Regions from separate parts of the Homo sapiens genome. Here region 2 is linked to region 1. The links come from fine-mapping of genetic effects on gene expression. Tissue or cell type: unexposed skin. Region 1 holds a variant in brackets; the other region holds the start of a gene. All regions are shown on one strand. Distances are from middle to middle.

Region 1 (5,255 bases):
CTCTATTAGGAACAGTGCCAAGGCAGGGGGCCCCCAACAGCTCAAGCAGGCTGGAGTTTGGTGCTCACGGAGTAGGGGAAGCTGGTGGCTTCTCAGGCTCATGACATTGTCCCTGCAGGGTGCAGGGCTATTCCCTGGTGGGGCTGGGGGTGTGTGTGGCCATTGGCAGGAGCCCCGATGTTCTCATCCATGAGTCAGCAGAGATGGGAACATCAATTTATTTGAGTGGCTGGTGCAGCCGAGTCCTTGGAGGACAAGGAGTTTTTGCCAAGCCTGGGCCGAATGTGCCAGGGCTTGGGGCAGGGAAACTGTGTCCAGGGACACAGCTTCAAGGGCCCCTGGTTGATGTCCCCAGGGCCTGCTGAGTGCCAGGCCCTGGGACTCAGAGAGGACACCACCCGATGCAGGCCCTGGGACTCAGAGAGGACACCACCGGATGGAGCTGCCCAAAGGGAGTGCCAGTCGGATGTGGGGGTGGGGGAAGAGGAGGGACCAGGATGTGACGGGTCCGAGGTCTCACGGGGTGCCCAGGTGGGCTGGATTTACAGAGCATGGGCGGCCTGCAGGACCATGAAGGGGCAATGGGGGCAGAAGACAGAGGTTGGAGGCAGGGTGGCATGGAGGGTCTCGGGGCAGGGGCAGGAGGGTCTCCAGGGTGGTCAGTCTGCTGCAGTCAGCAGAGGGCACTGGAGGGGCCTGGGCTCAGGCTCCAGGTAGAGCTGACCTAGCCCAGAATGGGCAGGTGAGGGAAGGCCACCGCCTGGTGGGCTTGGCTGTCCCCTCACCTGGACCCCATCGCCGGCCTCTTCCTTGCACGGGGTAGATGCTCATTGATGTGGTGACGTCTAGCAGGAGGATGGCCCTGGGCAGGGCTGTGAGCTGGGAGACCTGGGCTGGGATCTCAGCTTTGGGCCCACACACTGGGATGGAGGAGTGTTTACTGCTGTCTCTGAATGGCTGCAGGAAGGCTGAGGGGGCACATGGTTGATGGGCCAGGCCACTCTGGGCACAGTTGCTGAGAGTCGGCTCTTCCTAAGTGGGGGCACCCGGGGTGGTGGAAGGGAGTCAGATGCCAATTCCCAATGGGTCCTGGTGGTCGTGCCCTGCTGCAGGGCCTTGGCACCCGCCGCCATAGCCATGGAGTCCAGGGGGGCCCCCAGGGGCTGGAAAGGCAGGGAAACAGATTCTCCTTGGGAGCCTCCAAGGAAGCCAGCCCTGGCTAGCACGTCTGTGCTCTGTCTCTGGCTTTGCCTGTTCTGGACATCTCTGGAGGTGTGAGCACCATGTGGCCTTTCGTGTCTGGCTTCTTTCACTTAGCACGGTGGCTTCAGGTCCCTCCGCATTATCGCATGTGCCAGTGCTTTGCTCCTTTTTACACCTGAGTAATCGTCCACTGTGGAGTCATCCTTTCAGCTGCTGAGAGATGCGTGGGCAGTTTCCACCTGCAGCCATCGTGAGTAGTCGGGTGAGGCTGCTGAAGCAGACGAGTGAGGGCACTGCCCGGGCCATTTGGGCTGGAGCGGGGGTTTGAACTCCTCTTTGTGGGACGGAGGCTGTGTTCTTGCCCACACCTCTCCCTGCTCCAGGCCTGTCTTCCCCTTGGGACTGGGACTATGACTTGGTGGCTTCAGCCTCCGCAGGGTGAGCCTGATCCTGAGAGTCAGGCTGGGCTGAGGAGGACGGGTGGGCCTCCTGGGGGAGGTGACGACTTCGGACTGGACCTTGCAGGAGGGATGGGCTGTCTGAGGATGGGAGATGGGAGGAGGTATTGCAGGTTGGGCAGCAGGTGAGGCTGAGCTGGGAAGGGAGGTGGTTGAGGCTGGTTCTTGGGCTGAGTGCTGGGGAGGGGTCGGCCGGGGATCACCGAGAGGTCCCTCCAGGCTGCATGAGCAGAGGAGACACCCTACGGGTGATCTTCTTGCCTTTGTTTCTAGAATTCACAAATCCTACAATTCTAAGCTCTCAGAACCCTTGGATCTGAAGGTTCTCAAATGCTAAGGTTTCTAGATGTTAGCAGACGAAGGTGTCAAGACGCATGGGATCTACGATGCAGAGTTCTGAGTGGGGATATGCGTCCCCCACCCCGACTCACCCCACGACACATATCAGTAACAGCCTCTGCAACTCCGCCTTGGTGCCCCCGCACGTTCCAGGGGCAGCCACACTGATGGATTGCTCAGAACGGGCTGGAGGTGAGATGTGTTTGCCCGGAGCCCCCACACACTGTCGTCTCCAGCTGTGCCTGTCCCTCCCCACCTTCCACTCTGTGTCTCTTCCCTGCCCCCCTTGTGCCCCAGCCCCAGCCCCCCCTGTTCTTTCCTGCCACCCAATCCTGTGCCCCACGACAAGGAGGCTGAGCCCAGGGATGGCCAGGAAGGAACCCCCGGCAGGCTCTCAGGGTGGGAGAGAGGTTGTGGGGATCAGGGGCTTTGCAGAAGGGACAGGGAGGCAGCCCAGAGCACCCCAGCTTCTTGGCCAGCAGCAGGTAACCTGGCTGGAGGGCGGGGCCCCCATGGGCCATCCCTGGGCCAGCTGCCCAGGGCTACCAGGAAGGCAGCTTGTTTTGTAGGAGGTCAGGCAGCGCCCTAACCCCACCTCTTGTCTTCCCTGATGTCACACCCCAGGGTCAGCCCCTTGGGCCAGAATG[G/C]GGGTGATGGTGGGAACCGGGAAGCTGAGAGAACAGGGAGGAGGCCGGGTGGGGCACACCAGGCTGTGGCTGTGGGGATGGGGAGATTCCTCGCCTGGGCAGGCCGGGCAGCAGCGGGGCAGTCCTGGGGGGTGTGGTAAATGCTTCTGCTCTCTTCCCCTGACTACATGGGAGCCTCCGTCCCACCTCACCTGGAAAAGGGGCTTGGAACTGGGCTGCTCGGCCTTGGGCACACCAAACGGGGCCCTTGGAGCCCTGGGCTTCCTGGGGTGGCTGGGTCCCCACCCTGCCTCTGATCCATCCTGAGTCTGCATTTCTTCTCCAGGTGCCCCCTGCCCTTGGCCTCCCACCACGGCCTGGGAGTAGATAGTGGGCTGGGGCAGGCCCAGCGCTGTCCTCTGTGGGAAAGGAGGACTCTGGGCCTGGAAATAGTTGAGTGTGGACAGAAATAACCCTGACTGGCCTCAAAACAGAACATGGAAAATTAAATAGGGAACATTAGCATTCACCCCGCGCTTGCCACAGCCACTGTCCCATTTGGGAGGCGGGCGCGCTTATCCTCATTTAGAGACAGGGAAACTGCGGCCCAGAGAGGGGAGGTGACCTTCCTGAGGTTCCTCTGCCAGCCGGCCAGGCCCTGTGACCCCTGTGCCTCTGTGCTTCCACTACACAGCCGCATCTCCACTTCTGCCCCGACAGTTCCTGCTGCAGCAGATGCCCTTCCAGATGCAAACTCCTACGCATCCTTCAAAACCCAGCTAAATGTCACTTCCTCCGGAAAGCCTTCCCCACCTCTCTAGCAGGCAGTTGAGCCCAGCTTACATTTCCGACAGGCCCTCACTGCCCGGGATTGCAGCTGCGGGCTCCTTGAGGGCAGGGATTGTCCCTCATTCATCCTGATTCCATGCCAAGGCTTATAGTAGGTGCTCAATAAATGCTTGCTGAATGATAGATGGGCTGTGTGTGGTGCTAAGTTGAATGCCTTGTCCCTTTCCCACAATTTCATCTCAACCACCCAAGAATTTAGCGTGAGTATGGCTGTTTTACTAAGGAGCAAACAGGCTTACAGAGGTGAACTCACCTGCTCCAAGGTCACACAACAGTCAAGGGCTGGACCTGGGATTTGGTCCCAGCCCCGCAAACACAGCCCCACTACGTACCTAGCATGGGCTCAGGTAGGCCCTAGGGGTGGGCAGTGTATCTGACCACTCGTCCTGTCCACCTTCCCCTGCACCTGTGGCCCCACGGACCCCTGGGCTGGCTCTCAGGTGTGGCATCTCCACCTTCCCCCACAGGCCCAGAACCCACCCTGCTGGGCCAGCATCGTCTCCCAAGGGCTCCCACACAGACACAGTGGGAGCCCCTTCCCTCAGGCTGGCCCCCAACTTGTCCCCTTAGAGGGGTCGTTGGTAAGCACTGTGGCCTGAGGCTTCCTCTGTGAGAGACTTGTGGGGGTCATGCCACAGGGGAAGAGGGAAGTGAATGGATAGAAGGTTCTAGAACTATTAGCTATTGCAGGGACAAGATATGAAGAAAGGATTTCAAATCCTGGTTTAAAGAATCAGCCAGGCACAGTGGCTCATGCCTATAATTATAGCACTTTAGGAGGCTGAGGCAGGAGGATCCCTTGAACCCAGGAATTGGAGACCAGCCTGGGCAACATGTTGAGACCCCATTTCTACTAAAAGTAAAAAAAAAAAAAAAAAAAAAAAAAAAGATCTGACTATGGTTCCATGTGCCTGTAGTCCCAGCTACTGTGGGCATTGGGGTGAGGGTGGCTGTCGCTTGAGCCCAGGAGGTCAAGGCTGCAGTGAGCTGTGATTGCACCACTGCACTCCAGCCTGGGCGACAGAGCAAGACCCTGCCTCAAAACTAAAAACAAACAAAAAGAATCAAGGTTCTGGGGTTCTGGAGTTGTTTCCATCTTTCCGGCCTCCCGCAGTCCAGCAAAGGCCTATGGGTGAGGCAGAGCAAGTGCTGGAGAAGGTGGCAGCAGGTGGCCTGCGGGCCAGTGGACAGGAAGGAAGTGAGACAGCTGGCAGGCGACTCGGAGCCCGGGAGCGGGAGTGGGCTGGAAAGACCCCTGGCCTGGCCCTGCCTTGGCTCCCCAGAGGGTGTCAGGGCCCAGTGGCCACACTGCCCGCTCCCTGGGGCCCCCTGACAGGAGTTCCCACCGACCTCTCCAGGAATCTGGGGCCCGGGCCTTGTGCCCACCTGCCAGGCCAGTCCACCCTCAGCTGAACCACAGTGGGGCAGATGGATACACAGGCAGGGGCGTGGCCCAGCTGTCGGGCCAGGGTCTACTGGACACTGTCACTGTCTCCCTCTGTCCCTACAGGTGGGGCCTGTCCCCTCTGCCTGACCCAAGGGGCCAGAGACCGCCGAGTGACACACACCCAAGCACTCTCTCCCTTGCCACCGGCTTTGGGGCAGGTGCCAGTGATCTGGTTGGCAATGCTCAGGACTGCCTGTCAGGACATCTGAGCCCTCAGGCTGGTTTCTCACTCCTGCCCACACAGCGGTCTCGGCTGCCAGGCTGTGTGACTCGGGGTGGGGGGCTCTGACCTCTCTGGGCTCACAGGTGATGAATGAGGTTTTTAACCTGAGG
Region 2 (5,000 bases), 36 kb before region 1:
TCAAATCTGTTTCCTGGCTCAGGTGGAGACAACCCTTCTGATGGTGTTTCACTAAGTGCGCCTTCGTCAGCATAATCACGCAGTGATGAAAACCTGGGGAACCTAGGAGGCCAGCGAGGAACAGTCCTCACCCATCATTAGCAGGAACGCGGCTTCCAGCATATTCTGCCTCCACAAATTACAGACACGACTCTGCCAGGGGTGTTCCCAAGAAGGGCACTGGCAATTTGGGGTTGTCTGCCACCTACAGTGCTTGTCAGTCACCCTCACTCGGTGCCAGGCCACAAGGCTGTTGGTCACAAACCACCCCAGCCAGCCACTGGGCGTCAGGACCCTCGGGAAGAGCGGGAGAGGGCACTGGGATGCACCACGGTCAGAACGACAATCACAGCCCGAACCCCTGCGCTGCACTCCTCTGTCCTCCCCACCTCTCTCCTGACAACACAGATACAATCCATTCACCACCAAGCAACCTCAAGATTGGCTGAAATACCTTCCTCGGCTCCTTTCCTCCATCGGGAAAGTGGGGAGCTGCCGCTGCCGCAGCCCTCTCCTTCCCTGCAGATCTGCGGGGCGGGCTGGGGCGGGATCTCAGAGCTCACGGAAAGGAGGCAGAATCCGGTTTACAGGCTTGCTCCGCCCCTCCCCCACCCCCCTCCAATAAGCAAAGTTAGAGGGTGTTACAAGCTGCAAGACACACACCTTGGAGCTCACCCAGTCCAATCTCTGATCTGCTTTCACGATGCGACAAGGGCCAAAGCTGCAGCACGCATCTCGGCAGGGCAGCAGGCCACTCCCCCCACGAGGCCCGGGAGGTGGCCCTGGGCAGCCTCCCCACTCCCCGCCCTGTGAACACCTGGGCCAAAAAAACACACCTTTAAATACCCAGTGTGTATTTCAAACACATTTCAAACGATTTGCTTCTTTCCTTTACAGCCACTGCCACAAAAACAATTAGCCTGAACGGGTGTGAAATCCTTGATGTGTAAGACGACCTAGTTCCCCAGCCTCTCTCTAGAAACACATGAGTTCTTTACTGCGCCTGAGTCTCCTCCACCCGGAACCTGCAGGGCTGCCTCTTCTCATCAAGTGGCTTCTGCAAAACCTCTCCCAAGCATTTAAATAATCTCTGCTCGTTCTTTTAACAATAATTCAAACCTAGCAGAAAAGTGAGGACACTATACATTTCTTTTAAGGACAGTGTGTGTTACCTGCTCTGATCCCCATGTGTTACACTCCCTAACCTGTACACCAATACTCCAGCTTTTTGTTTTCTTATTTTTTCCTAAAGCCAGCACAAAATAACAGAAGGATAAGATTCCTACCACATTCTACCTGTCTGCCAATGACACAGGAAGGATGAGACCGTCTGGGGAATGGAAGCGCAGGGCGCTCTCAGTAATGCTGGGCAGATGCAGTGGCTTTTCCCCAGCAGAAATGGGCTTCGATTCAGAATCTACCAGCCCACAAGAATCATCTGACCCCACAACAATTAGTTCAATCACTCATCTGGTAAACCCTCCTCGCTCCGGGTCATAGACTGGAAAAGACAGCCCCCAAAACAGTAATAAAAACGACAAGCCCTGTTTTGCTGGAGTCAGCTGAGGTATCAGATGGGGGTCAGTGGCTAGGTCTGTGAACCTGAAGCCACACTCCATCAGTGACCCGCACTGGAGAGACACAAACACCTCAGGCTCCTTAGGAGGTCAAGCGGCCCTTCCCAGCCCTCCCTAGCCCCCGCCTTCTAGAATCATTCTGAATAGCTAACCAGGAGGCTGGGCCCCGTGTGGATCCGCCTCCGCTGGAAAAGCCGCTGCTGGAAGTGCTCCAATCCAGAGCAGGATACCTGGGGGAGGAACGGGTTAAGCGCAAAGGGGAAAGGGGCAGCGGGTGCTGAGACGCAGAAGGTGCGGGGACTTCTACAGAGCAGGGAATCTGGGCCCGGATGAACTGATGCCCTGGCCTCTTTCCTCCAGGGACAAGGTCGGTCTCAGGAAATCAAGGTATCTTCAAAGGGACACAAGGGAGCGCAGTGCCGATGAGACCGGGGCAGAGCCACAGTCTGGCGGTGCAGGCTGGGGGTCCGAGGCGGGGGACACTGGCTAGCAGTGCTGCCAGGGTCGTGTGTGCACTGGGCAGAGGGAAAGGAGGGGAAGAAGGGAAGGGGAAGAAGGGGAAGAAGGGAGTGTGTTCGGTTGGGAGGACCGGTCCAGACAGAGGGGAGAGGGGGCCACTTCGCGAGTGGTGTATCGCTGGTTGAATTCTCATAAGTTAGAGATAGCAGGCAGGGGTTAGAAGGACAAGACAGGGTCAGGACCAGGAGTTAGAGGCGCCAGGCTCCTCTCTGGGTAGAGAAACCGAGGAACTGGGGGCGGGGAGGACTGATGGGTGCGAAAGCGGGCCGGGTCCAAATGAAGGCGCGCGCCCCGGGGTGGGGGCCGGGGTGGGGGGAATGAGGGAGGCTGCAGGGCTGGGGACCAGGGCAGGTGCAATCCGGAAAGAGGAGGCGGGAAGGAATTGGGGGGCCCTGAGGAGCCAGCGCAAGCCGGGTGGGGGCACGTCCCCTCCCCCGGAGAAGGTGCGGGGCTGGGGCTGCGGCGCGGACCCGACCTGGAGGCCGAGGCTGTGCGGGAGGTGGGGGTGGGGAGGCTGCAGGTGCCCGGCGCCCAGGTGCGAGGTGCAGGGGGCGGCGGGGCAGGCGGCTGCGGGCGGCAGGCCACTCACCTGTCTCCTCCGGCCGGGGCCGCGGGGGCGGCGGGGCGGCCGGGCCGGGCCGGGCAGGGGCTACGGGGGCGCGGAGCCCCGGGCGCACCGGGGTCGGGAGGCGGCTGCGGGTCCGGGCGGGGGCTGCTCCCTCGGCCGGCCGGCCGGGCGGTCAGTCAGCGACGCGGGCGCGGAGAGAGCGCTGCGAGGCTGCGGCCGGCGCGCGGAGACAACGCCGCTTTATCGGGTCGGAAACAGCCGCTCCGCGCCGCTTCCGCTGACGCAGCGCCGGCCCCTGCGCCTCATGACTATGCAGCACCCGCCGCCGCGGGACGGGGATTCGGGGGGCGGGGTCTGCGCCGCGCGCGCTCATTGGCCTCCGCTGCCGCCCACCCCGCCCCCGAACGGCCGCCCCGCCCCCGCCGCGCCCCTGCCCCGCCCCCGCGCGCACCGTGGCTCCCGCCCCCGTCTCGCCATGGCCCCGCCCCCAGCCATAATCCAGCCCCGCCCCCGCCCTCCTCCCGCTACGCCCCCGGCCCCGGCCCCGGCCCCGGCCCCTCCGCACCGAGCGTCCGCCCTCTCTCCCCTAAAGCGCTGGCCCGCAATCCACCCCATCCCTCTCTGCAGCCGCAGGAGGTGGCCCCCGCCTGTCCCCACCTTCTCTCCCCGCTCCTCTCGCCACTCTGTCGCAGAGGGGTCCGGCTAGCCACGAGGCCCCGGCCCCCGGCAGCCCAGCCCCTTGGCAAGCACCCTCCCGCCCCCTCCGCCCCTGCCCGTGGCGCGGCGACATGGGCCCCATCCAGGTGCTGCAGCCCCTCCTCCGCTGCAGGAGAAAACTCTCCTGTTTTCCCCTCCCTGCCACCCTCCGAAGACCTCCTACCTGGTCCCGGACCACGCCCCCGTCCCCAACTCCCCCAACGCCCCGCGCTCTGCGGGTCCCCTCTCCAACCTGGAGAGCGGGGCAGGACGAAGACCCGACCCGGAGCTTCCTGGAGGCTGGGCCTCCCTCTCAGGCTTGGCCCTGGCCAGGGACACTGATCCGTCTCTCCCCACGTGTAGAAGGGCCACAATCCCTAGGGCAGGACTGCTGGGAAACCCCATCAAGACAAGGTCTGGGGAGGCGGCTTTAACAGACAGATGTGATGGGCTGAGGCCAACCCTGTTAACGTCGCAGCCCTGCACCCTTGCCAGGGTTTAAGTTGCTTTGGAGGAATTACTTCATTTCTCAGAACCTTGGCGTCCTCATCTGTAAAATAGAAATCGTAAGATCCATCTCACCTGTTGCTAAAGGAATTTAGAAGTGAAGTGCAGAGCAGAGCCTCCAAGAGCATCGGAAATGGGAAAATCTGACCATATCAAGTGTTGACAAGGAAATGGAGCAACTGGAACTGCCAGACACTGTTGGTGGACATGCAAAGTGGTACAACTTTCAAAATCTTTTTGAAAGGCCTTGATTACCCAGCAATTCTGCTCCTAGATACACACCTAACATTGTGTTTCTGTTGATAGCAGCAGTGTTTATAATTGCCCCAAACTGGAAACTACTGAAATGCTCATCAGCCGTTAAATGGATACATAAATTGTGATATATTCACACAGTGGAATGACAGCAATGACAGTGAATAATCAACTACACACAACAACATGGATGACTCTCACAAATGATGTTGAGGAAAAGAAGCCAGAGGATAAAAAGCCATATTTGTTTCCATGTGGATAAAGTGGTAGAAGGTGTATATGGGGGTAGCAGTCAGGATAGTGGTTACCCTTGGAGGGAGGGGTGCCAGAGCCAGGAAGCAGGGCACAGAGGACGTGTCTGGGGGCTGGCTGTGTTCTGTGTCTTGGTCTGAGTGCTGGTTACAGTGTGCTCAGTTTATGATGACTTTTCCAGCTGTGCAGTCAAGATGCATGTGCCTGTGGGGCACGGTGATTCACGCCTGTAATTCTAACACTTTGGAAGGCCAAAGCGGGTGGATTGCTTGAGCCCAGGAGTTTGAGACCAGCCTGAGCAACATGGTAAGACCCTATCTCTATTAAAAAAAAAAAAAGACGTGTGTGTTTTTCCATGTGTATGCAGTATCTCAACAGAGGGTTAGTAAGTACATCAATGGTCTGTAGACAGTCCAAAGCAGCATCAGACACATCATGAGTGCTCAAACTGTACATCTGCTTCCCTGGTGATTTTTCTTTCAATGGCCAAAGGATAGAGGCAGCGGCAATTCCAGGTGTGCTGTGAGCCAACTGTGTGAGCCTGGGCGCCTACTTAACCTCCCTGAGTCCTCTTCTATAAGTGAGCA

Direction of the effects. Positions count from the first base shown, and alleles are read on the strand shown. Sizes are in standard deviations (SD) of each study's normalised expression.
For the expression in unexposed skin of the gene that starts at base 2,917 in region 2, G is the low allele of the variant in region 1 and C is the other (small effect, 0.31 SD a copy in GTEx).

The links. PIP is the estimated chance that this variant, and not a neighbour inherited with it, causes the effect.
Region 2: it holds the start of SLC45A4, and the variant in region 1 is fine-mapped to the expression of SLC45A4 in unexposed skin (GTEx, PIP above 0.99). The same link has a PIP of 0.9 or more in sun-exposed skin.

The regions. Positions count from the first base shown.
Region 1 is chr8:141,341,024-141,346,278 of GRCh38, forward strand. It overlaps LINC01300 (long intergenic non-protein coding RNA 1300), which reads left to right. Exons shown (of 4, transcript NR_024441.1): 2 at 1,318-1,453; 3 at 1,935-2,192; 4 at 3,321-3,598. Among named protein-coding and RNA genes, the nearest start is that of LINC01300, 3.1 kb to the left of the region's middle. RefSeq lists enhancers at 1,150-1,650, 4,824-5,255. The variant G/C (reference allele first, on the strand shown) is at 2,648.
Region 2 is chr8:141,305,372-141,310,371 of GRCh38, forward strand. SLC45A4 (solute carrier family 45 member 4) reads right to left here and starts at 2,917. Exons shown (of 9, transcript NM_001286646.2): 1 at 2,725-2,917. RefSeq lists silencers at 2,793-2,892, 2,913-3,152.